Regions from separate parts of the Homo sapiens genome. Here region 2 is linked to region 1. The links come from fine-mapping of genetic effects on gene expression. Tissue or cell type: whole blood. Region 1 holds a variant in brackets; the other region holds the start of a gene. All regions are shown on one strand. Distances are from middle to middle.

The links. PIP is the estimated chance that this variant, and not a neighbour inherited with it, causes the effect.
Region 2: UBR3 starts here. The variant in region 1 is the best candidate, but not a certain one, in a credible set for the expression of UBR3 in whole blood (INTERVAL, PIP 0.65).

The regions. Positions count from the first base shown.
Region 1 is chr2:170,090,843-170,093,761 of GRCh38, reverse strand. No RefSeq gene overlaps it. Among named protein-coding and RNA genes, the nearest start is that of MYO3B, 86 kb to the left of the region's middle. RefSeq lists an enhancer at 1,800-2,367. The variant A/C (reference allele first, on the strand shown) is at 1,128.
Region 2 is chr2:169,825,815-169,828,733 of GRCh38, reverse strand. It overlaps UBR3 (ubiquitin protein ligase E3 component n-recognin 3), which reads right to left and starts at 1,280. Exons shown (of 39, transcript NM_172070.4): 1 at 682-1,280. The coding sequence starts at 1,226. RefSeq lists silencers at 537-666, 927-1,486.

The sequences.
Region 1 (2,919 bases):
TATCCACTCCCACATTAGTTTGGAAGTTTTACCCTCTTTATACTCTATCTGAAAAATTTTCAAAAAACCTACCCTAGAAATCAACTTTCCAAGGTATAATATTACTCTTCTTCTTTCATTAACATGTATGAAACATGTCCATATATCAGGTGAAGTAAAATGCAATGGGGCTAAGAAGGTGAGTAGCGCAGTCTCTCTTCCTGAAGAACTTAAGTCTAAGTCAGCCTCTTCAGTTTTCTTTTGAAGGATCTCCAGATCTCCCATGTTCAGACCACTACTTCTTTTCTTTCTGCAAATACCATATATTTACAAATAAATTCAATATTTTATGAGCTTATTGTAGAGATTGTCAGCTATTATATCAGTCTTTTTGAAATATTTTTTGGTTTGGGTTTGTCATTTCAAAGGATCCAGCTGTTCTGGATCTTTACAAGTATCTTTTTACACATTACAGCTATCCTCACCACAAACTTCAAGTGAACTATTATCTCCATTATGCAGAGGAGAAAACTGATTTCAGTGAGATTTTCCCAGGAACACACAGCCATTAAGGGGTGGACTGGATTTGAACCCAGACCTATACCCATCTCTAATGACTATATATTTTTCCCACCTTGTCACAGAATTTGTCAAAATGTAGGCTAAATAACTGTAATATGCATTGCTACTTTGAGTGTATATGATTGTCACTTTATTTTTTGAGGTACAATTACATACTACAAAATGTATTCTTTAAAGTGCATAACTGACTGGTGTTTATCACATTCACAACGTTGTGCAACCATGATCACTTTTTAATTCCAGAATGTTTTCAACTCACCACAAAGAAACTCCATCCCTATTAGCAGTTATTCTGTATTTCCCTTCCCCCAGCCCCCGGCAACCACGAATCTACTTTCTGTCTGTATAAAGATGCCTATCCTGGATATGTCATATAAATGGCCTTTTTTGTAGCCTTTGTGTCTGGCTTCTTTCACTCAGCATGTTTTTAAGGTCCGTCCATGTTGTAACATGTATCAGTACTTCATTCCTTTTATGGTTGAATAATATTCCACCATGCAGATATACCACCCTTTGCTTATTCATTGGTTGGCAGACATTTTTCACTATTATGAATAATGCTGTGT[A/C]ATCATTTGTGTGCAAGTTTTGTGTGAACATATTTTTTCATTCTCTTGGGTAAAGAGCCAAGAGTGGAATTGCTGGGTCATGTGGCAATTTTGTTTAACTTTTTGAGGGAACACAGCATCCTTTCACATACCTACCAGCAATGTAGGAGAGTCTAATTTCTCTACATCCTCCTCAACACTTACTGTTCATGTTTTTCATTAAAGCCATCCTAGTGGGTGTGAAGTGGTATTCCATGATGGTTTTGATTTCCATTTCCGTCATGATGAATGATGTTGAAATCTTTTCATGTGCTTATTTGCCTTCTGTATATCTTCCTTAGATCAAAGCATTCAAGTCCTTGGCCTATTGTTTAAGTGGGTTGTCCTTTTATTGTTGATAGGAGTTCTTTATTTTGGACATTAAGGCTTAGCAAATATATGATTTGAAAATATTTTCTCCCATTCTGTGGGTTGTTTTTTCATTTTCTTGATAGTGTCCTTTGAAGCACAAAAGTTTCAAATTTTGGTGAAGTCAAATTTTTCCTTTTGAAGGGTGGGGAATTGCTTGTGTTTTGTAGATTAGTGGTTCCCAAACTTTTTGGTGCCAGAGCCTGGTTTTGTGGTAAACAGTTTTTTCAGACTGGGGGGTTGGAGCGAGGGCATGGTTTCTGGATAATGCAAGCAATTACATTTATTGTGTACTTTATTTCTATTATTACATTCTAATATATCATGAAATAATTATTCAACTCACCATAATGTGGAATCAGTGGAAGCCCTGAGCTTGTTTTCCTGCAACTAGATAGCCCCATCTGGGGGTGATGGGAAACAGTGACAGATCATCAGGCATTAGATTCTCATAAGCAGCAAGCAACCTAAATCCCTCACATGCTAGTTCACAATAGGGTTCACACTCCTATGAGAATCTGCTGCCACCACTGATCTGACAGGAAGCGGCGATCAGGCAGTAATGGGTGCCATGGGGAGTGGCTGTAAATACAGATGAAGTTTTGTTCACAGCCACTCACCTCCTGCTGTGCAGCCTGGTTCCTAACAGGCCTTGGACTGGTATGGGTCCGTGGCCCAGAGGTTAGGGACTCCCTGCTTTAGATGTTATATCTAAGAAATGATTGCCTAATCTAAGGCAACAAGGACTTAAAACTATGTCCTAAGTATAATATTAACCTTCACCATTTTCTGAGATAATGCAAGGACTTTGGAACATCTATCCCCGTCTTATTACATTTCTGTTAAACACCAACATACATACATACTGAAATCCCATATAATGCAGTATCATAATCATTTTATGCAGAAAGTGTTCATTTAGTTATACTATACATATATTCACAATTTTTATTTTCTTGCCAAAATTTAATCTTCCAGCAGGGCTTATTTTCCTTCTGCCCAAAAACTCTTTTTGTGTTTTCCTTCCTTAGTGTGGTTATGCTGCTGTTACATTCTCTCCATCTTTATTTTAATGTCTTTATTTTGCTATCATTTTTGAAGAGTATTTGTTGTGTAGAGGATCTTCAGTTAAGAGTTATTTTCTTTCCACATTTTGAGGATATTTTTCTATTGCTCTGTTTCCAATGTTACTGTTAAGAAGACAGAGGCCTTTTGAGGTAATCCATCCTTTTTCCACTGAGCAGTTTTTAAGATACTTTTTATTCATTGCAGTTTCACTATTATTTCTCTAGGTATGGATTATTTTCCATTTATCCTATTTGTGATCTTTTGAACTTCCTGAATTTATGGTTCAATGTCATTCATCACTTCTGAAAAATTCTCAGCCATTATCTCTTCTAATATT
Region 2 (2,919 bases), 270 kb after region 1:
AGGGTATTCTGTAACTGACTGCTCAGTAGCCCAATTCTAAATGTCATTCCAGCATACCAAATAATCCACTGACAGCTCAACAGTCACTTTTCATGCAGGCCCCTCCCCTTCCCTCCTCCCTCAACCCTCAAGAGCTCCTTCTCTCACAGTGACAGACACACTGGCAGTTCAGAAGACCTTTTCCTCAAGCGTCCTTCCCTGCACGTACAAGACCACCTCCCCAGCTCTCATCATCCCGCGAGCCAATACGGTCCCCAATAACATCCCCTCCCAGCCAATCCAAATCACAACCTAAGTCTCTTCCCAAGAACCAGGCTTTACAGCCTTTCCCAACAAGTACACACTTGACAGCTCGACACGAGCTTCCCCAAAAATCATTTCCCCTCACTCCCCTCCTACCCCATACACTGGCTCTTTTCTCGCTATCATTTACCCACCCTGGCTTCCCCAAAATTCACAGCCCGGTTTCCTAAACATGCTCTCCGCTCTCCTCTCCCCTCCTTCTCCTCCCCACCCCCTTTCCACCGCTGACAGCTCAGTCACCTCCATCCCCCTGTGGCTGCACCCTCCCCCGCACCCTCCCCTTGACAGCTCAGAGTGGGCTCCCAGTGCTCCGCTCCAGGCCCTCCCGCGACGTCCCCGGCCCAGGGTCGCCTCGCCCGCGGGGAGGGCTCCACTCACCCGCTCTCCCGCATCACGTTGCTGTCCCCGCAGTCGCAGGCGCCCCCGGCCTGGCTGCGGAACATGTTGAAGTCGTGTCCGGTGTGGTCGCCCTGGTGGAAGCACTCGGCGCACAGCGACATGCAGGGCGAGATGCCGCACGTCCGGCAGCGGTAGGCCACGAAGTTGGCTGTCCAGACCAGGCCGCAGAGCGCCGCGGGATCGTAGGCCCGCACCGCCGCGCAGAACTCGTCGTAGCCGCCGCCGCCCGCCAGAAGGCACTTACACCACTCCAGGGCCTCCTCCTCGGCCGCCCCCGGACCGCCCCCGCCTCCGGCCGCCGCCGCGTCCTCGCCGCCGGCAGCCGCGGCCAGCGGCCGCTCGGCGCTCAGCACCCGCTCCAGCAGCGCCTGCAGCTCCTCAGCACCTGCGCGGTTGTCCGGCCGGCTGAGGGCCGCCTTGAGGTGCGCGGCGGTGGCCGCCTTGTCTAGGGCCAGCCCCGGCGCGGGCAGCTCGGGCTGTGACGGCTGCTGGCCCCCGACGGCCGCCGCGGCCGCCGCCGCCATGATGAGAGCTCAGAATTTGGAGAGTCCAGGGCCAGCGGCTCCTCCAGGGAGAGTGAGGGAATAGACTGCTGCGATTGCTCGGCCCGCCCAACTCTCGCGATACCCGGAGCGTCCGCGCTCCTCCGCCCGCAGCCCCGCCCCTACACACGCCCCCTCGGGCTGCAGAGCCTTCCTCCCGCCCCTCTCTCCTGGGCGCCTGTGGACCAAGCTAGGCTCCCAACTTTCTAAGTTAAGAGCTACTGAAATAAAGTACTCACCTTATAGGAAATCTTTAATAAGGGCAATTATTTCTTTATTTGCATAGACTACAGGAATTATTCACATCATCTTTCAGATGTACTTTAGGCATCTGCATTTTGTCTGAGATGTACATTCCTACTGTTATCAAAGTCCAGCGGGCGACAGAATGAAACCCCAACTTAAGGAAAACAAAAACTGTAGGAAAAGCAATCCAAAGAAGAACAGAAGGCCAGGCGCGGTGGCTCACGCCTGTAATCCCAGCACTTTGGGAGGCCGAGGCAGGCGGATTACTTGAGGTGAGGAGTTTGAGATCAGCCTGGCTGACATGGTGAAACCCTGTCTCTACTAAAAATACAAAAATTAGCCGGGCATGGTGGCGCACGCCTGTAATCCCAGCTACTCCGGAGGCTGAGGCAGGAGAATCACTTGAACCCAGGAGGCGGGGGTTGTAGTGAGCCGAGATCGCGCCACTGCACTCCAGCCTGGGTGACAAAGCGAGACTCCGTCTCTAAAAACAACAACAACAACAACAACAACAAAGAAGAACAGGAGTGTTTCCAATCCATAACCTTGTGTTTGAAATGAATGAAACATAATTAAAACAGGTTATTCCTGGTCTTCTACATGAGTTAAGTATGTCACGATCATCATATAACAGTGATAAGTTAAATTTGCTCAATAATTTTACGAATCACTAAATTATAAACTAAATAAAACTTTATGTATTAACTTTACATGCTAAAACTTTGTATGTTTTAACTCATTTGATTCTCATAACAGATAACTTTGAATTCTGCTATTCCTAGAAGTAGCAGCCTCAGACACTTCTCTACTTCGTCATCGTCCATTCACTCTTTTTCTTCTTCCTATAATAATGCAAAGAGGTGTCCATCCACAGGCTTAAACGCAATCCTGCAATCCTTTTACTTAACCACTGGATCCTGCCTTCTCAGGATCCCAACTCCATCCAATATCCTCTTGCATTTTTAACCCCTCTCTTTCTATTAGCTCAATTCTTGTCAGAATTTGTCTCCTCCTGTCTTAAAAATAATTGAAAAAATAATAAAGCTTCCCCCATTACTAAGCATCCAACCATTCTTTTCGTAGGCCACCTTTCTCTTTCTCTTTCTTTTCTTCTTTCTTTTTTTTTTTTTTTTTTTTGAGACAGGGTCTCACTGTCGACCAGACTGGAGTGCAGTGGCGCAATTTCAGATCACTGGAAGCTTTGCCTCCCGGGCTCAAGCGATTTTCCCACCCCAGCCACCCGAGCAGCTGGGACCACAGGCTCGCGTCATCAGACCCAGCTAATTTTTGTATTTTTAGTAGAGACAGGGTCTCCTTATGTTGCCCAGGCTGGTCTCAAACTCCCGTCTCAAGCAATCCGCCCATCTCGGCCTCCCAAAATGTTGGGATCACAGGGGTGAGCCACCGCTTCCGGGGCCACGTTTAATTG